Homo sapiens: one gene and its partners. The protein of the gene in region 1 interacts with the protein of each later gene in a pairwise test. Each region holds a gene or a part of one and is shown on either strand. Other genes may lie near its edges.

Region 1 (7,025 bases):
AGAAGCCACCACCCCCCAACCTCTTTTTTTTTTTTTTTTTGAGACAGGATCTTGCTCTGTCACCCAGGCTGGAGTGCAGTAGCACGATCATGGCTCATTGCAGCTTTGACCACCTGGGCTCAAGAGATCCTCCCTCCTCAGCCTCCCAAGTAGCACAGGCACAGTAGCACAGGCACACACCACCATGCCTGGCTAATTCTGTAATTTTTTTGAGACAGGGTCTTGCTATGTTACCCAGACTGGTCTCAAACTCCTAGGCTCAGGCTGGTCTCAAACTCGTGGGCTCAAGCAATCCCTCTGGCCTTGGCCTCCCAAAGTGCTGGGATTATAGGAGTGAGTCATCACGCCTGGCTGAGAAGCCTTTTAAACTGACTACTTTCCTCATCTCCAAATTCAGAGTAAGCATGCACAGGTAAAAGAAAAGTCTCTGAACATCTCCAAGTTAAAATGAGGAATAAGCAGTGCTGAGCCATGGAAAACTGTATGGGAGGATAAAGGGATCATGAATGGGTTTTTAGCTTCCTGTGAGCTGAATCTTATAGTTAAAATAATGATGTTACCTTCAAAATCTTCTTTATGCTATGGGTAAGACATGAGGGACCCCACCAGTGGAGACATCTATATTTAAACAAAATTATAAATATAACCCAAAGTCAAATAGAAATTATTTTCAGCATTTTAACCACCATCCCTCTCTACTATGAGAACTGAAAGTTCCGTTAAAAGAGCACTAGTACTTAGTGTCCTGGCTACTGTAAAGTTGCAAAGGAAATCCCTAATCTTAAGAAGTTTACAGTTACTGCTTGAGTCAAAACATAATAGCCCCACTGACACCTTCCATGTACTTCATTAACTTGTTAGGTCTCAAAATATAACTACTACTCCCACTTCTAAATATATACCCAAAAGAATTTAAAACAGAGACTCAAACAGATATTCACATACCCATACTAGCAGCAGCATTACTCACAATAGCCAAAAGGTGAAAGCAACCCATGTGTCCACTGATAGATGAACAGCTCAACAATATGTGTTACATATGTACAACGGAATATTACTCAGCCTTAAAAAAGGAAATTCACACATGCAACAACAGGGATGAACCTTAAAGATATTATGCTAAGTGAAATAAGCCAGTCACAGAAGGACAAATATTGTATGATTCCACTTATTTGAGCTGCCTGGAGTAGTCAAATTCTTAGAGACAAATAGAATGGAGGCTGCAGAAGAGAGTTAATATTTAATGGATACAGAGTTCCAGTTTGGGAAGATGAAAAATGTTCTGGAAGTGGATGGTGATGATGGTCATACAATAACGTGACTGTACTTAATGCCACTGAACTGTACACTAAAAAATGGTTAACACAGTAAATTTTATATTATGTATATTTTACCACAATTTAAAAAATCACTACTTCCAGCTTGATAAAGTAGAGCAAATACAGGAATAGGAATTCTAAGATGTGGGTTCTTCATTCTGCCACCAGGTAGCCTCAAAATTCTGAGCAAGTTCCTTAGCCTTTCAAAGTGTTATTCCGCTCACAGATTTGTAACAAAGATCAAATGAAAATGTATGAAACCATGCTCTGAAGGAACCAAAGCTGCATATATGAACATAAGGTACTATTATGATTAGCCGCAAACCTGTAAACAGGTGCCACAGAACTATGCGGGGAGAAGCGCCAAAGAACATTAAGTAATTCCCTCACCTCCTGTACAAGTGGTTGCTGGAACAACGGAATGAGAGGATTCGTCCTTGGAATGTCAATGTGAATCTGAAAAAGAGAAGGCATGTCCAAAAACACAAATGCCAGTTTTTTTTTGTTTTTGTTTTTTTGAGATGAAGTCTCGCTCTTGTCCCCCAGGCTGGAGTGCAATGGCACTATCTCAGCTCACTGCAACCTCTGCCTCCAGGGTTCAAGCGATTCTCCTGCCTCAGCCTCCCAAGTAGCTGGGATTACAGGCACCTGCCACCAGGCCTGGCTAATTTTTGCATTTTTAGTAGAGACGGGGTTTCACCATGTTGACCAGGCTGATCTCGAACTCTTGACCTCAGGTGACCCACCCGCCTTGGCCTGCCAAAGTGCTGGGATTGCAGGTGTGAGCCACCGTGCCTGGCCCAGTTTGTTCTTTTGACAATTTTTTTTTAAAGAAATGGGAATCATCTGGCTGGGTGCGGTGGCTCACGCCTGTAATCCCAGCACTTTGGGAGGCCAAGCCGGGCGGATCATGAGGTCAGGAGATCGAGACCATCCTGGCTAACACGGTGAAACCCTGTCTCTACTAAAAATACAAAAAATTAGCCGGGCGTGGTGGCGGGTGCCTGTAGTCCCAGCTACTCGGGAGGCCGAGGCAGGAGAATGGTGTGAACCCGGGAGGTGGAGCTTGCAGTGAGCCGAGATCGGGCCACTGCACTCCAGCCTGGGCGACAGAGCAAGACTCTGTCTCAAAAAAAAAAAAGAAATGGAAATCAAAGTAGTAAGAAAACACAATTTATCTTCAGAAAGAAGTGACTGACACAGGAAAAAAATCTAGTTATACCTACCTGCCCATGTGGAACATGTTTCCATGACAACAATAGCTTATTAAACAGTGAGGAAACCTCCCAAAAGAAACCACTAAAGTCAAATGGCAATAGGCTTCACAGATTAAGGGTTTTTTCTTATTGCTCTGAAGTCTGTTTCACTCTGGGCTGGCATGTATGTAGCAGGTATGATCCAAGTAGGTACCCATCTTTCAGAATCTTACTCATCAACAGTTCCTAAGAACTAGAAGAGCTCAGAAAGCTGCAAAAATGTCCTAAAATAGGGAACCAGAGATGAACTTGCTTATGAAGTCATGATGTGTAAGAAGCGGGGAAGGGCCAGGGCGATGGCTCACGCCTGTGATCCCAGCACTTTGGGAGGCTGAGGCGGGTGGATCACTTGAGGTCAGGAGTTTGAGACCAGCCTGGCCAACATGGTGAAACCCCGTCTCCACTAAAATTACAAAAATTACATGGTGGCTCATACCTGTAATCCCAGCACTTTGGGAGGCCAAGGTGGGTGGATCACCTGAGGCCAGGAGTTCAAGACCAGCCTGGCCAACATGGCGAAACCCCATCTCTACTAAAATTACAAAAATTAGCTGGGTGTGGTGGTGTGCGCCTGTAATCCCAGCTATCCAGGAGGGTGAGGCAGGAGAATCGCTGGAACCCAGCGGACAAAGGCTGGAGCAAGCCGAGATTGCGCCACTGCACTCCAGCCTAAGTGACAGAAAAAGACTCGGTCTCAAAAAAGATAAAGAAAAAATTAGCCGGGCCTGGTGGCACATGCCTGTAATCCCAGCTACTCAGGAAGCCGAGGCAGGAGAATCACCTGAATCCAGGAGGTGGGGGCTGCAGTGAGCCAAGATCACGCCACTGCACTCCAGCCTGGACGACAGAGTGAGACTCCATCTCAAAAAAAAAAAAAAAAAAAAAAAAAAAGTGGGGAAGGACCAAAAGGAGTTGGCCTTCAGTAACTGAAGCTGAAAGTTCTTACTTCTGTTACCTAAGACATCACTATAGTCCATTTCAACTCAGGGATTTCCCAGTGCCCAGTCTAACTATGCAAAAGACTGTGTCAGCAGCAGCAGCAGCAGAGGCTACTTCAGTTCTTGAGGCTTGTTGTAAATAGCTGCCCACCTTCCACTTTCTGCAACCCCTGGCCTACTCTTCTCCTCCCTCCACATGTGATGTTGGGAGCAGACCTTTCCGCAGACCATGAGGACCATTATGGGCAATGACAGAAGACTCCCTGACAAGACTACTGAAAGCTACAGCTCCTACAGTCACAGATGCCAAAACAGCAGTGCAGCTGCCAGGAAGACATACTGATGTCATAGTCCAGAGGGACTGGACCACGGCTAGGTAAGCTTGTCTTTCCTCTCCATGCTCGATAACGCTTACTACTCACAGTGTGGTTGGTGGACCAGCAGCAGCAGCATTGCAAGGGAGCACATCAGAACTTCAGGCTTTACCTGAGACCTGCTAAATCAGAATCTGCATTTTCTCATAATCTCTAGGTGAGATCTTATCAAGATCCTAGGTGATTTGTATGTACATTAAAGTTTGAGAAGCAGTGCACTGACTAGTGCCAAAAAAGTCTGTCTATTTAAAATGGCTAAAATCAGAGTTGCTGAATGAAAAGAGGGGAAACAGTTTTGAGGATAAATTTAACTCCTAACCAATATACCACAGCCTGAAGACTTGGAAAGCCTGTACCCTGAGAGCACTACCATGAGACATACCTAAAGTATATGACTGGTAAGCAAAGAGGCAGCAGGTGGTGACTGTACCTGTCTGTAGGTATCCTGGTGATGTTCCTCGTTTCGAGAGTCATAATACTGTTCAATGAAGCCAAAATATTCCTCCCGCTTCCGCTGCAGGGTCAACTTCCTCCTCTCAGTGTTTGCTGGGAGATAGCCCTATAGACAAGACTGCTGGTCAGATGGGGAAAGACAATGGTTGGATAAATCCTTAATTTTTATTTTAATCTATGCAGTGGTTTGGAAACTACCAAGAAGGAAAACTGCCAAGGGTAAATCCCTTTTTGGTTCTGGCCACCCATTTTTTGCCCTCTCCTCATTCAATGAGATCCACATGTGAGCAGATGAAGCAAGGCCAGCTTTCCCAGGATTATTTACTCCCTTGGCCCTGCACTGTGCTGGAGCTTGTGCCACTGGTGAGCACTCCTCAGCTCCCAGAGCTGGCACAGTACAGCAGTGAATGTAGGTCAGTGGGAGGGAGCTGGACCCAAGTCATGGCCTCGGAGGGCTGTGTGTGTCCAGGGCCATACTTCTGAGAAATGCAGGGATATAGCAACCTCTACAGCACATCTCAGCAGTGTGCCAAGTAAGTTGGTGCCAGTTACATTCTTTTCCAGTGTAACTTTCAGAATTACCAGCTTAGGAAGCAGCTGAATGGAATCTGTGACATACAGCTACAACACTCAGACAGAACTTCTGGCAGCAGCCCCCGGCCTAGCCAAAGCTCCAGGCCAACTTTCATTCTTATCCCTGGTCTAGATCCCACTCTCATTCTTATATTTTCTGTTCCCCTTCCGTTCTCACCAAATCTACTCTGAATAGTATTCAAACTTATTAGAAGTGGCAGAGGCAATGATTGCATGGTTGCAAGAGTAGAGGTGGGGGCGAGCAGTCAGGAGACAGACCCTTCTTCTTGAAAACATTTATGTAATGCATTCTGCAGTGAGTGCCTGGAGAGTGGGGACTGTGGTTTATTCATTTTTGCATCTGCTCAAAGCATCTGGCACTATGCCTGGCAAACAGCAGGCTCTCAATAAATCCTCACTAGATGAATGAATGAATTTTACAGGCTCAGGAAACCCAAGTGTTTCTATCATAGCGGCTGGCACAGTGCTCTGTACTTGGTGAAAGCAGGACTAGTAAAGCTTCCAAGGGAGGCCAATTTATCAACTCTTCACAGATCAAAGTGGGTTTCAACTTTTGGTTATTCCGGCTGAAACAGGAGTGAAGCACAGGGAACGTTGGAGCTTACTCAAAGCAAGTGCTGGGATCACCCTATCTCACTCTATTCTTCTTCCTCGCTGTTAAGAACATGACACCATGACTATTGGTACAAGTCTGTGTACCACTACATGTGTGTGAATAAACTCTCAAGAATGTATTTCTTTATGCACAGAAATAGGACTATAGTCCCATAGTTCTGTCATATCCAGTAGGACTAGAGAAGTCTATGGAGTTAAGACCAATGTGTCCAGACTAACCTCATCAGGCAAGAAGGGCTGTGTGAGGCTCACATTTCTCTACACAGTGGGTAGAACTCACCGACAGGAGTCTCCAGGTTATAGGTCGAACCTCCCTGGGAACCCCTGGCCAGCTACACTTCCTCAGTTCATCTGTAAATAGAAAACAGCCTTGTTAGGTTAACTCTCCACAAATGCTCTAAAGCAAACCGCAACCAGCACTGCCTGATGTCTCCTTCCATCCATGTAAGACCACCACCACCACCTGCTACCCATAAGCACAGTGAAAAGCCCAAAACAGCCCCGAGCAGCTAAGTGCCAAGGACACGGCCTTGCAGTAGCAGTCCTGTCAGCTCAGAGATGAAAGTTAGAGGGGAAGGGAAAGACCAGTGGGTGTAGATTTCAGTAAGAGTCACCTTGAGATAAGGAAGACCAAAGTCAGAATAGTTGCACTAGGGTCTACAGGCCACAGAAACCAGTCCCACCTAATTTGGTCCATAATCTCTAGTAACATATGTCTGACTTAATACCTGCATGTCACTGCAATGGGCACCAGGTCAGGAGAAGCTAGAAAAGTAAAAGAAGGAAGAATAAAGAGCAGTAGCTTCCAGGTCTCTGAGAATTCCAGTCACCCAAAGCTCCTACCTTGCCTGGGCTCACAGGGACTCACCTAAGTCAGTGTTCTGGCTGGAGAGAAGTTGACGGAATTTTTCTAGGCGGGTTTTCTCCCGGACAGTCATTGGGGGGGCCCCAGAAGCGTTCTGATCCGAGATCCGGGCAACGAGGGGGATGATGGGCCGGAGAGGGAGTGATTGCTGTTTGTGGAGTGGGTTCCTCAGGCATGTATCACCTGAGATCATTTGAAAAAGAAAGAGAACGGGCTGTGTGAGGAGTATGGATTCTGAGAAGCCTTAAACCTAACCGTTCAGCATTGTGTTTCCTCCCCAAGGGTGTGGCTGCCTGTGTGCACTGTCTGAGGTGCCCAGCTGAAGGGCAGCGAGGGGCCAGAACCCAGCCACACCCCATTCACTGCCCAGAGAAAGGGCTGCATTTATATCAAACACACCAAGGCACCTTAGGTGGTAACAGAGACGCCAGATGCTGCAGCAACTTTTGAGAACTTTTTTGGTGACTCTAAAGGTGCTAACAGAGACTCCAGATGCTGCAGCAACTTTTGAGAACTTTTTTGGTGACTCTAAAGGAAAATCAAATGTTTTCTTTCTACCCTAACTTGGAACTTTTCTTGGTGCCAAATAGTGAGTTTAGTTTAGTCTAAGG
Region 2 (7,025 bases), on another chromosome or scaffold:
ATAGAGCAACATATTAGATCCAGGAAATATTCTGGTGTGTAGACCAGACTTGACAATGAATTGTTTATGGGAAGTGGGAGAAAAGAGTGATTAAAGATGACTCCTAGGATTTCAACCTGAGCATTGAGTAGATGCTAATACCACTTTCCGACATGGGAAGACTAGGGAAGAAATAGGGTTAGAGGAGTAATCATGATTTCTAGGTTGGGCATATAAGTTTAAAATGTTTACTAGACACCCAAACGTAGACATTAAATAGTCAATAGGATATGTGAATCTGATATTCGAGGGAGAGATCAAAGCTGGAAATACAAATGTGGGAATAATCGGCATATGGTTGGTATTTAAGTCTATAGAACTGGATGAAAATACTGAAGTATAAAAAAGAAATCATCCCAATACAAAGCCTTGGGTCATAATATTGAGTGACCTAATGGGAATCCTGAAGGACAGGAGGAAAGTTTGATAATGAAGAGGATGGGGCTCAAGGAGGGTCCTCTTTCATTTGCAGAAACAAAGTCACTGAGAGGTAAGAAGAAATAGGATCTGCAGTATAGGAGGAAGGATGAGTTTCTGAAACAGGAGGATGGCCTAAAATTCAGCTACAGATACAAATGGATGTGGAATAATGAGGGAGCTCCCCTCTGACTCCTAGGAGGAAGCCAGGCCACAACGTAATGAGTAAGAAAGTGAACATACTAGGGAAGTGCAATAGAATCGCCTTGCAGTGTTCACTGACCACATGATATTTATGGTCATGAATTTAAAGTGAAACTAGTCCATGCAGTAATTTACCCCCAACCTGTTGGCTCCAGCATTCAGCTGCTCAGGTGTAGGCAAGACCCGGGCAGATGGGCCAGCTTAATTAGGGGTGGGTTTTACCAGGTTATTAGGATAGAGACAAGATACAGGGGTTTACCAGGTAATGAGGATAGAGACAAGATACAGGGAGGGACAAGTTGCTGAATGGTTATGAGATGGACGGGAATAAGCAGAGTTAGGAAGAGAGAGTATGAGGAAGATGATGGATAGTGAAAAGTAAAGAGTCTAAATGAGGTCAGAGAAATGCTGGCGTGGGAGTACTAGATTAAGCATGCTGGAAGGATGATGGATAGGTTGCTTTAAATCTCAATTAGTAAATAATGCAGTTCTCATTGATGATAGTGTCAAGGACATGCTATGTGGGTGGATGCCTGACATGAAGGATTCTTCAGGGCTCCATCTTTTAACTTCTTTTTTTCCTTTTACTTGCCTATCTTGGATAATTTCAGTCAATCTCATGGCCTTGTCATCTATAACTTCCAAGTCTGTCTCTCTGATTCAGACCTATATTCTGAGTCCTAGATTGACATATCTCACTGTTTACTTGAGTCTGTTTAAGTCTCAAGTCACCTCAAACTCATTATTATTCAAAATTGAATCCATTTTCTTCATTCATAAACTAACTAAAAAATTTTATTGAAAACACACTGGCCTAGAATCTGTGCTAGAACCTGATGAATCAGAAATAAGTAAGAGGCCAGGAGCTGTGGCTCACACCTACAATCTCAGGCCAAGGCAAGAGGGATTGCTTGAGCCCAAGAGTTCAAGACCAGTCTGGGCAACATAATGAGGCTCCGTTTCTATAAAAACTTTTTTAAAAAAGAGCTGGGTGTGGTGGTGTGTGCCTATAGTCCCACCTACTCAGGAGGCTGAAGTGGGAGGATCACTTGAGCCCAGGAGCTGGAAGTTAAGAGTTAGCTGTGGTTGCACCACTGTGCTCCAGCCTGGGCAATAGAGCAAGACACTGTCTCTAAATCAATCAATCAATCAATCAATCCATAAAAAGAAAGAAAGAATATCTTACTCTTAATGGCTTCCTTTACCTTTTTCTCTTTCTCAGTAAATGGCATGAGTGTCACTAATCACTCAGGCCAGAATCTAGGAAGTCATCTCTCTGAGATCAGGTTTCCTAGAATCTGAGATGAGATTCTTGTGAAAGCGATTTACCGAGGGAGTATTTTAGTATTTTCAGGAGGAGAGTGAAGGAGACAGGCTAGGGAAGGGGAGGAAAATTAAGCAAAGATGTGGTCTGAGCTACAAACTAGTATAGCCTGGTGTCCCAGGAAGCTTGGCACATGAATTGCACCACAGCATTTGTTCTCACCAAACAAAAAGTTTGGTATTTTACGCCCCTGTGTCCATCAATCAGTCATTGCCTCAGAGAGGATAGCAAATGGGCAGAGGAGGGACTGCAGCCTCCCAGGTGAGGCAGGAGCCTCCAGTTCGGTGGAGGGCAGTTCCCCAAAGGAGCCAGCTGTGAGCTGTTAGTAGCCAACACCCACCCAGCTAGAGGAGAGATGCATCAGCCTGGGGAAGGGGATCCGGGTAGGGGACCAACCACCATGGTCAACCTGTTGCACCACTCAGAACCACCTTCTTCCATAGCTTCCATTCAGGCATAGCTTCTTCACGATTCTTGCTGGTCATAATTTCTGGAAAAACTGTTGAGAGGAAAGTTAGTGAGATAAGCCACAGCCCCTCATGCTGCAATTGGTCGCTGACACCTATCACTGCCTCACCCATTCTAGATTCCTCTCCCCGTCAGCCAACTCTTCTGTTGATCCAGGTGGCTTTTCTTTTGGGGTGAGCCCCTAATGTCCATGCCCTTATTAGGATATGGTTTCTGTATTTGCCAATTAAAATTAAAATTGGGCATGAGAGTACCAAAAGATGCCTCAGAGGATCATCAGAGTACCAAACACATTCCTCACTGCCTCTGTTATGCAGTAGCAATCTTAACTCTTCAGGATGACTTAGGGTCAGCTACCTCTGCCAATATAGGAACTCCACTCTGTGTGTCTGATCTGTTGGCATGAGGAGCCCAAAGTGACCACATGGGAGCCAAAGCTCTAAGTTTGGTGGGACTCTTACAGGTCTCTTGGTAGAAGCATTCCGCCTCTAAGAGCCAGGACCTGTAGAACAACAGAGCCTAAAGATACATAGACAGAAAGCACAGATTCTCCAAGTGGGTTAACAGAAGTGATAGAGAGTGAAGCCATTCCTACTTCCTCCCTTTTGTTCCCAGATCCATGTATTCTACCCATTGGAAACACAGAACCATAAAACAGCCATCGGTTTAAAGTCTATACCACATCCTGAAGAATGGCACCCCAACCTCACAGGATATAATCTCCAAGCTGGTGCCTCAGCTTTGCCCTCAAGAGGCCGTCCCAAAGCTCTATCATGTTAGCATCCTCTGGATAGTGCTGTGTGTGGTTAGGACCAGTGGATACCATGGTCGTGCCCCCACTGCCATACTCTTTTGCTATAAAGTAGGTACCTTTACTATTAAGCAGGGTCTCTCTCATGTCTGCAGATAAGTGATTCTGTGAGCCCTAAGATAGTGGTGCAGCCAGGAAAGGCAAACACGCAGAATTCATATCCATTCTGATAAGCATACAGCATTGCCCTTTCCAAGGTGCTAGGGACCTATTGCAGTCAAGTTGCCACCAAGAGGCTGGCTGGTCTCCTTGAGGGATGATGCCATATCAAGAGCTCAGCTTTGGTTTCTGTTGCAAGCAGGTCAGACATTCAACAGCAATAGCAGCTGGATTACCCTTGGTGAAAGGGGAAATCATGGTATTGGGATGATGCATAATTCCCACTGAGGTAGCCAAAGACAAAGGCTGGATCAAATCATCCTGTCCACTTGCTGGAGTCTCAACCAGGACTCAACAGCATGACAAGAATTGTCTTGCAAATAGTATATAGGTTTCTGCTACAGATAGCATAGCCTTGTTCCAGAATCTTAAGGGTCTGCAACACAGCTTTCCCGATGAAACTTGCCAGAGGCTCCACAAGGCATTTTTCTTTACCAGAGATTCTTCTAGTATGGGATCTACCAAGTTATTTGACCAAAGTAGCAGGACTACTTGTACCCTATCCTGAACCTCCTACACAGCTCTTTCTTTCCAGAGTTCTGGGCTTTCTCACAAAATAATTTTTTCACCAGGCATGGTGGCTCACGCCTGTAATCCCAGCACTTTGGGAGGCCGAGGAGGGCAGATCACGAGGTCAGGAGATCGAGACCATCCTGGCTAACATGGTGAAACCCCGTCTCTACTAAAAATACAAAAAATTAGCCGGGAGTGGTGGCGGGCGCCTGTAGTCCCAGCTACTCGGGAGGCTGAGGCAGGAGAATGGCGTGAACCCGGGAGGTGGAGCTTGCAGTGAGCCGAGATCACGCCACTGCACTCCAGTGTGGGCGACAGAGTGAGACTCCGTCTCAAAAAAAAAAAAAAAAAATTTTTTCTGTGTCACCCAATAAATGAATCAGATTATTCAATTATTTGATCCAAGGGTGGAACATTTTCAAGGTGCATTAATTTTTGCTTTACCTAGGATGTTCTGACATGCCACATAGCAGTAGACACCTAAAAACAATGTGTCAAGCCCCAATCTTTTATGGGGTTTATCTTTCACCTTCTGGAGTACATACATCTTTCCATCCCTTTAACATACTTGCCACTTCTTGCTCATCAAGTCTCATTAACATGATGTTAGTGTTAATATATGATGTTCCATGTGATAGTCTTTGGAATGTCCAGATGGGCTAGGCCCCTTCAGAATTTATTGTGACAGCTTCATTAACATAACTTTGGGGCAAAACCATGGATATATATTGTTGGCCACCACATGTGAATGCTAACTGCTTCCTATCCTCCTTTTTATTAGATATTAAAAAGAATGCATTTGCCAATATTAAAAATAATGCATTTGCCAGATCAATAGTAGCATACCATCTACCCCAGGCTGTGATAGTCTTCTCTAGTAGAGATACTATCCCTGACACAGCAGCTACAGTTGGGCCTACTGGTTGGAAAAGTGTGCAGTACTCCATCATTTGCATGATCCCTAGTTTTGGCAGGGGCCAGATTGGTGAACAAAATCCACCTAACAAGGTTCACATGTATACAGATTGTCGACTCCCCAAACACTACATAAAGTCCCATTCTTCCTACCAAAATGAAAATCAAAGAAGAATATAGCAACCACAGAACTGGAAAATTAAAGTACAGATTTCCCCAACAAAAAAAAATTACTTAATTTTTGTATGTGGCTTTTCAAAACGAAGAATTGTAAAATTATCTGATGTTGTCCTTTATTCTTTAGCCACAGATTTTTATTTTTTTTTAAATAAGCACTAAACAGGTCACAAACAATTAAATAGCATTTTCATGTCACCATGAAGGGTGGAATTGGGGCACTTGTCCCTGATACTTTCTTCTCTGTGATAAGACAAACAAGATACATGCCAGCATCAAGCCTTCCCTACTAGGGAGCCACCTCCACCCCAAGACACATCATGCAGCCAGCCCTCTCACCTGGCTAACTCCAAGCATTGATTCTCCCTGTCAAAGCCAATCCTTATTTTCTTCTCTATAAACTGTCTAGTGCAATTCCACTATAATCTTTACTTTAGCTTTTTGGAGTTGCCTATTTTCAAATGAAAATCATTGGCTTTGCAAATGATTGCAGCATGTTTTAGGCAGGTTCCATGGTGAGTGCATTGTCCCTGCATTTGCAGTTGGACAATATAACACTCATTTGTAGAGCTTTTTAATGTAATGGTGCTGTGATGTCTTACTTAGTTCCTTGAGGATTTCATTAGTGGTAACTGAATTACACTAGTAGTGGGAATTCAGCCCAGGATGTATTCTTTCATTAAGAGCTGCGGTGTTTGACAGTATGTCAGGGATGAAGCATGCCTGGAAATGGGAAGATTTTTTAAAGCTCTGTATTCCTCACTCACTTTTCTTTCTTTCTCTCTTTAGTCTCCCCCAGATATGTCCTTCCCAGCATCTTTGGCTGCACAGCATTTCCTTCTGGAAGAAGAGAAACGAGCAAAAGAACTTGAAAAACTTCTAAATACACATATTGATGAACTGCAAAGACACACAGAATTTACTCTTAATAAATACTCCAAGCTAAAACAAAATAGACACATATGAGCTTTTAAACTTTTTTATTTGCTTCCCCCCCCCACCCCCGCCAAGAAAAAAAGCTCTGGCAAAATATTTACAAAGCTGATTAATGAAACCAAGAAATTCTGTTCTGTTTCCTTGAGTAAATAATTTCCGTAAGGCAGCTAGAAAATAGTAAGTATTTTGTTCTATAAAGCTGTTCACATTTCTGCATTAACATGCTAAATTGTCCTGCTGTAGAGTTACTATAAAATAAACATGACTATTCCAAAAGAGATTTTTTTCCAGTCTAAGGAATATTTTGGAATCAAATATGCAGTTTTTTTTCCCCACTTGAATCATGTATACTGAAAACCCATTTCCTCAGCAACTACACAAAATAAGAGAAAGGGAAGTGCTATATTCCAGATACAAATGACTCAAAGGCAGCTCAGTTGTACTGGTTTTGAAAACTCAAGGATTTTATAAATAAAAATATTTAAGTATTTCCAGTTATGTAAACACTCTAAAATTCTATAATTTTTTGGAAAAAAAAAGCTATAGCTTTATTGTTTTTACATTCACCTTTATAATGTCTGTCTGTTTCAACACAATGAAGGTATATGGAATGTGCAATTTACAAACCTAAAATATATGTGCCAAAAATTAACGCTTTTTTGTTAGTACTAATTACTTCATGGACACAAACAAGATAAAGGAAATATAAAGCATTACTGTTGCTACATTTTCCTTTGTAATCACTTCTGTTTTTAATACAATAAAGGAATGTAAAATTCAATGGACTTGAAGCATAAATGCTAAATCTGTATAGAACAGTAATAGCATGGCTGTGAACAATAAAACAGAGTTACAAATACACAGCAATAATACAATATACTTTAAGAGTTTCACATATGTGTGTGTGTGTATATATATGTCTCTCTCTCTCTCTATATATATATATATATGTATATATGAAGAGAGATTATGAAAGAAGGTAAGTCCTACTACAGCTTTTACAGTTCTCTATTTCCCTTTAAAGAAACAATCTCATCATACTGAAAGATAAACCAAAATGCC
Region 3 (6,999 bases), on another chromosome or scaffold:
GGGCCCTGCCCCCCCCCTGGGTCCAGCTGGGGAGTCTGCGTCCCCCAGTGCCCTGCGGACCAAAACCCAGGAGTTTCAGCCCCTCCTCCCTCTGATCCAGATGTCTCAACCCCCTACTTTCTCTTCCCTTTGGACTTTTCTTGCCAGCCACCTTCCTATTCTACAGGCAGTGAGAGGAAAACTCCTTTTCCCTGAGGGCCAAGAGTAAGAGGGCCTTCTGCGTCTCCCCCTCCATTACCTCCTAATTAGCGCTTAATTTACTCTCCCCTGCGGGCCTTTAGTTAGCGCGCTGGTGAAGCCAAACCGCTCTACCCTTCCCAGGAGCCCCTGGCGACAGCGACAGGGCTAGCAACATCAGGCACCTGCTTGCTGCAAGGCCTGGGGTTGGGGGGCGGGGGGAGCTGCAGTCCTTCAGGGTCGAGGCAACTTGTGGGTCTGGGGTGCAAGGGCTAAGTGGGGCAGAAGGACTCGTCTAAAGGATGGGAAATAAATATAACGATATCCTCCTCCTTCTGGCTGCAAATCGTTTTTATGGGAACCTGCAGGGTGACCCGGCACCTTGCTAACTGGGCTTAGAGTCTAAGGGCTTGGGGGCTGCATCTGATACAGGTTGGAGTTTGGGGTGGGAGAGTCCTAGGAAGGGGGCCCCAAGTAGAAATGAGAGAAATCAGGAAGGGATATCGGGGGCGTCCACGGGGGTGCTCCGACTGGCCTTGCACCCGTACCCCAGCTCTGCACCCCCCGTCACGAGCAGTTCAATGCCCGTGCAGAAGTTGGCTTCGGAGGCCAGGAACACTGCCGCAGCCCCGACCTCAGCGGGCTGGCCCATGCGGCCCAGTGGCTGGGGAGAAAAGAGGGGGGAAGGAGGTCAAGAGGAGCCCCACTTGATCGCCATGCCCCCCACCCCCATGCCACCTTCTACCACCTGGATCTGAACCCCACTTCTACCTGGGCCAGCATGCCCTCTCGGATTGTGGCCCTAGGGTCTGGCATTAAGGCTGCCAGCTCCTCCCACAGCGGGGTCCAGATGTTTCCTGGGGAGATACTAGAGGAAGGGAGAGGGGGGATCAAAGCAATCTGTCTCGAACCACTTGGGATCACTCCCAGTCACCCCAGTCCCCCCAGGAGGCTCTCCGCCTGCTCAGAGCAGCTCACCAGTTGACTCGGACACCATATGGACTTTCATCCAGGGCCAAAGCTTTGGTCATGGCTGTTACTGCCCCCTGCAGGAAATGGAGCGGGGAAGAAAGTTCAGTCCCCGGGACATGGGGTCCCTGCCATCCATTGTCTCCTGCCAGCCAGGGGGGCATCAGAATGGGGAAGTCATGCCCTCCTTGAAGGCTGCCTTCAGAGGCACCAGGCTTGGTTTCTTGGGAGAAACTTGGCATAGAAATCTGTCACAGGAAGGCCAGGTGCAGTGGCTCACACCTGTAATCCCAGCACTTTGGGAGGCCGGGATGGGTGGATCACTTGGGCCAGGAGTTCGAGACCAGCCTGGCCAACATGGCAAAACCCCATCTCTGCTAAAAATACAAAAATTAACCGGACATGGTGGTGCACGCCTGTAATCCCAGCTACTGGGGAGGCTGAGGCGTGAGAATCGCTTGAACCCATGAGGCAGGGGTTGCAGTGAGCTGAGATCATGCCACCACACTGCAACCTGGGTGACAGAGTGAGACCCTATCTAAAAAAAAAAAGAAGAAAAGAAAAGAAAAGAAAAAAAGAAAGTTAGCCGGGCACAGTGGCTCATGCCTGTAATCCCAGCACTTTGGGAGGCCGAGGTGGGTGGATCACCTGAGGTCGGGAGTTCGAGACCAGCCTGACCAACATGGTGAAATCTCGTCTCTACTAAAAAATACAAAAATCTAGCTGGGCGTGGTGACAGCCACCTGTAATCTCAGCTACTTGGGAGGCTGAGGCAGGAGAATCACTTGAACCCGGGAGGCGGAGGTTGCAGTGAGCCAAGATCACACCATTGCACTCCAACCTGGGCAATAAGAGCGAAACTCCATCTCAAAAAAAAAGAAAGAAAGAAAAGAAAAAACAGAAATCTGCTGGGTGCGGTGGCTCATGCCTGTAATCCCAGCACTTTGGGAGGCCAAGGCAGGCAGATCATGAAGTCAGAAGATCGAGACCATCCTGGCTAACATGGTGAAACCCCGTCTCTACTAAAAAATACAAAAAAAATTAGCTGGGTGCGGTGGCATGCGCCTGTAGTCCCAGCTACTCGGGAGGCTGAGTCAGGAGAATCCCTTGAACCCAGGAGGCAGAGGTTGCAGCTGAGATTGCACCACTGAACTCCAGCCTGGTGACAGAGCGAGACTCCATCTTTAAAAAAAAAAAAAGAAAAGAAAAGAAAAAACAGAAATCTGTCACAGGCAGTTATGCCTGGGTGCTGCATCTGGGAGTTAGGTGTGAGACTTTCTAGGGCCAAGATCTTGCTAGGTCTGGCTCCTAAGTTGTCTGGACTCAAAGCCAAGGCCCATGGGAAGGAGTAGGGAGGGAAGGAAGGGGTAGGGGCTGCCATACCTTGGTGGCCACATAGGGAACTGCCTGGGCCTGGCCGATTGCCCCCACCAGGCTGGAGATGTTGATGACATTCCCTTGACTCTTCCGCAGGTAGGGGAGGGCGAGCTAGGGAGACAAGAGGCCAAGTAAGCTACACAAGCCCTGCATCTTCGCAGACCACTGAAACACAGCCACAGCCATCCTGATGTCTGGGATGACGGCCACCTCCCTGGCATGTTTCTAGTTGATCTCAGTGACTGCTAGAGACGGCATCTAACATAACACCCTCTCTGGTTTGCCCTGGGGTCGCTGGGTCTCAGCACTCAAGGAGTCTCTCCTTGGTGGGAAGGGATTTCTCTCTCTTCTCCTCGGTCTCTGACTCTGTCTTTGTCTCTACCTCTGTCCCTTCTCCCTTGGTCTTTGTATGTTACTCAAATTCCTGTCCATATCAAGACAGGAAAATGGATGAGAGATCCAGAAGGCTGCATATTTTTCAAAAATGGGATGAAGTTATTTTCCGGTGAAGTCTCTGTGGCCCAGGCTGGACTGCAGTGGCACGATCATAGCTCACTGCAGCCTCGAACTCCTGGGCTCAAGCAATCCTCCCCGCTCGGCCTCCCAAAGTGTTGGGATTACAGGCACGAGGCATCACACCCAGCCAGGAAGTTCTTTTATCCATGGAGGGGGAGATGGTTTCTATGAGGCCTTCATGAAAGGCACTCTAGACCAGGCACAGTGTCTCACACCTGTAATCCCAGCACTTTGGGAGGCTGAGGTGGGTGGATCATCTGAGGTCAGAATTTTGAGACCAGCCTGGCCAACATGATGAAACCCCATCTCTACTAAAAATACAAAATTAGCCAGGCATGGTGGTGCATTCCTGTAATCTCAGCTACTTGGGAGGCTGAGGCAGGAGAACTACTTGAACCCGGGAGGTGGAGGTTGCAGTGAGCCAAGATTGCGCTACTGCACTCGAGCCTGGGCAACAGAGCAAGACTCCGTTTCAGAAAAAAAAAAAAAAAAAAAAAGAAATGCACTGTTTCCTGCCACCGTTTCTCCTGCAATTCAACTCCCTGGCCACCTGGGAAGTCCCTAAATACTCTCTCTGTGTGTGTGCGTGTGTGTTCGTTGACTACACATGACCTTGGATAAACTCAAATTCTATCTTTGATCTCGCTTGCCTTAGAAAGCTGAGCTGGCCAGGCAAGGCCTGTCCCTGCCACTTAAGACTAATTGGTACAAGGCAGCACCCCTAGCAGGCTCTCCGAGTGGGAATCTAAATGAGCTCCCTGCCCGGTTCCCCCCACCAACTCTTTCAAGCCATTTCTGCTCCCCTCCCAAACGACCTCCACCCTTTTCCGTGCTGTATCTTCGACACACCCTGCGTGTTCAAACCTCAGGGCCTTTGAACTTGCTGTTCCCTCTGCCTGGAGTGCCTTTTCCTAAGAGAGCCACATGACCCACTCTTAGGGTGGCCAGCCATCCCAGTTTGCCCAGGACTGAAGGGTTTTTGGGGACATGGTATTTTCAGTCCACAGTGTCAATGCTAAACGGGGACTTTCCTGGGTAAACACTCCCTCAGCTCCCTCAAACCCTGATCCGAGGTCACCTCCTCAGTGAGGTCTTCCCTGGCTATACTGTTTAAAGCTGCAAGCCAGGATCACTAGCTCACACCTGTAATCCTTGCACTTTGGGAAGCCGAGGAGGGAGGATTGCTTGAACCCAGGTGTTTGAGGCCAGCATGGGCAGCTTAGCAAGACCCTTTTTCTTTCTTTCTTTCTTTCTTTCTTTCTTTCTTTCTTTCTTTCTTTTCTTTCTCTCTCTCTCTCTCTTTCTTTCAGATAGGGTATCACTCTGTTGTCTAGGCTGGAATGCAGTGGTGCAATCTCAGCTCATTGCAACCTCCACTTCCCAGGTTCAAGCAATTCTCCTGCCTCGGCTTCCCGAGTAGCTGGGACTACAGGCATGTGCCCCCACACCAGGATAATTTTTTTTTTTTTTTTTTTTTTTTAGTGGAGACAGGGTTTCACTATATTAGCCAGGCTGGTCTCGAACTCCTGATCTCACATGATCTGCCTGGCTCGGCCTCCCAAAGTGCTGGGATTCCAGGCTTGAGCCACTGTGCCTGGCCTGTCTTTATTTTTTTTAACAACAAAAAAATATTTTTTGTTTTATTTTTTGAGACAGAGTCTCACTCTGTTGCCCAGGCTGGAGTGCAGTGATGTCATCTTGGCTCACTGCAACCTCCTCCCCCCAGGTTCAAGCCCTTCTCCTGCCTCAGTCTCCTGAGTAGCTGGGACTACAGGCATGTGTCACCATGCCTGGCTAATTTTTGTATTTTTTAGTAGAGATGGGGTTTCACCATGTTAGCCAGGCTGGTCTTGAACTCCTGAGGTCAAGTAATCTGCCTGCTTCGGCCTCCCAAAGTGCTGGGATTACAGGCGTCAGCCACCACGCCTGGCCCCAAAAAATAAAATAATAAAATAAAACTGCAGTTCCCACACCCCTGGGTCCCCTTCCCTCTTTCAGATGTCTTTTCTCTGTGTCACACACTCCCTTCTGACAGGCCATATATATTTTACTTGTTTGTTCATGTTCTGTCTCTCCCACCAGCATGCAGAAACCTATGAGGGATGGTCAAGATTTCTTATTTTGTTTCTTCCCCAGCACTAAAGGTGCCTGGCACATAGCACATGCTTCATAAATATCCTTTGAATGAATGAATGGGTGAATTAATGAATGAATGGAGGACCTGGTATGTGTCCAGCCCTGTCCTCAGCAATTTACATGGATTAGCTCATTTCATCCCTCTAACATTCTCCTGTACCTACAAGAAGGAGGTACAGCTGAGAGTCCCATTTCACAAGCGAGGAGACTAAGGAATGGAGGGATGATTGACGCCCGCAGGGCATCACGTGACACCTGACAGCACCAGCATTTGCTGCTGGACAGGCTGAGACCCAAACCCATAAACAAACAACAATTTCTCACAATTCTAAGTATTAAGAACTTTAGGCCAGGCACAGTGGCTCACACCTGTAATCCTAGAACTTTGGGAGGCTGAGGCGGGCAGTCACCTGAGGTCAGGAGTTCAAGACCAGACTGGTCAACATGGCAAAACCCCATCTCTACTAAAAATACAAAAATTAGCCGGGTGTGGTGGTGCGTGCCTGTAATCCCAGCTACTCGGGAGGCTGAGGCAGGAGAATCTCTTGATCCCGGGAGGCAGAGGTTGCAGTAAGCCACAATCGCACCACTGCACTCCAGCCTGGGCAGCAGATAAAGACTGTCTCAAAAAAAAAGAAAAAAGAAAAAAGAAAAAGAGAAACCATGCTCTAATATGAACGTGAATGATGTGGGCATTGACCAGCCTCTGCCCTCCTCCTCAGGGAACCTCTCATCCTCGCCTCCTCTCACTCCCACCAGCCGTGACACCCTCCCTCCCTCCCAGTGCCCACCCCACCTGCCTTGCTCCATTTCTCTCTCAGTCTGTGCACCTGCCCTGCTGTTTAATCTCCTCCCCCACCTGACCCTGCAAACATGAGTCTCACCAGGGCTGAGACACGGATCTTGCCACCCTCACCCCAGCACGAGGCACACAGCTGGAGCTCAGTAAATATTTGTCCCACACTCCCTGAGTGTCCTTCTCCCCACACCCCTCAAGGTTGCTAAGCACCTGCTCTATATCAAGGACCCGCTGGGGGCCAGGTGCAGTGGCAGGTACCTGTAATGTCAGTGCTTTGGGAGACTGAGGTGGGAGGATCGCTTCAGTCCAGAAGTTCAAGGCCAGCCTGGGCAACATACTGAGACCCCAGTTCTTAAGTGCCAAGGTTCTGAGACAGGAGCAGGCCTGTTGTGTTTGGGAGCAATGAGGCCAGTGTGGCCGGAGGTGAGGTCAGAGAAGAACAGGGGCCAGATCACGAGGCCTTGAAGGCCCCCACTTCTCCCTTGGACAAATGCAATCAACTCCTTTTTTTGTTTGTTTGTTTCAGAGACAGAGTATTGCTCTGTCACCCAGGCTTGAGTGCAGTGGCACGATCTCGGCTCACTGCAACCTCCACCTCCCAGGTTCAAGCAATTCTTCTGCCTCAGCCTCCCGAGTAGCTGGGATTACGGGCGCCTACCACCACGCCTGGCTAATTTTTGTATTTTTAGTAGCAACGGGGTTTCTCCATGTTGGCCAGACTGGTTTCGAACTCCTGACCTCAGGCAACCTGCCCACCTCGGCCTCCCAAAGTGCTGGGATTACAGGCGTGAGCCACCATGCCCAGCTCAAATGCAATCAACTCCTAATACTGGTTCTCCCACTCTCACGCTTAACCCTCAGATTTGTCCCTCATACCTACAGGAGCCAGAGCCTATGATCTGTTAATAATACTAACAGGATCACATCACTCCCTTGCTCAAATACCTGCCACAGCTCCCTATTGCTCTTGACATAAAGACCAGATGATTCAGCATGCCCTTCAAGGCCCTGCCTGATCTGGTTCC

Evidence for each region. The genes of interacting proteins can lie anywhere in the genome.
Region 2: the proteins of TBC1D22B (region 1) and DEUP1 interact in binary tests that used the Homo sapiens proteins (3 or more experiments, as listed by UniProt).
Region 3: the proteins of TBC1D22B (region 1) and HSD17B14 interact in binary tests that used the Homo sapiens proteins (3 or more experiments, as listed by UniProt).

What each region holds. Positions count from the first base shown.
Region 1 is NC_000006.12:37,281,757-37,288,781, reverse strand, and holds part of TBC1D22B (TBC1 domain family member 22B), read right to left. Parts: intron 6,598-7,025; coding exon 6,418-6,597; intron 5,901-6,417; coding exon 5,830-5,900; exon of another isoform or gene 5,769-5,829; intron 4,447-5,768; coding exon 4,318-4,446; intron 1,776-4,317; coding exon 1,710-1,775; intron 1-1,709. UniProt on the Homo sapiens protein: May act as a GTPase-activating protein for Rab family protein(s).
Region 2 is NC_000011.10:93,431,727-93,438,751, forward strand, and holds the end of DEUP1 (deuterosome assembly protein 1), read left to right. Parts: intron 1-511; coding exon of another isoform or gene 512-526; exon of another isoform or gene 527-779; intron 780-3,067; exon of another isoform or gene 3,068-3,314; intron 3,315-5,816; coding exon 5,817-5,993; 3' UTR 5,994-6,744; downstream 6,745-7,025. UniProt on the Homo sapiens protein: Key structural component of the deuterosome, a structure that promotes de novo centriole amplification in multiciliated cells.
Region 3 is NC_000019.10:48,812,508-48,819,506, forward strand, and holds the end of HSD17B14 (L-fucose dehydrogenase), read right to left. Parts: intron 2,635-6,999; coding exon 2,530-2,634; intron 1,224-2,529; coding exon 1,156-1,223; intron 1,046-1,155; coding exon 949-1,045; intron 842-948; coding exon 668-841; 3' UTR 511-667; downstream 1-510. UniProt on the Homo sapiens protein: Catalyzes the NAD(+)-dependent oxidation of L-fucose, yielding L-fucono-1,5-lactone, which rapidly converts spontaneously to L-fucone-1,4-lactone. Can also act on D-arabinose and L-galactose, with lower catalytic efficiency. Does not use NADPH.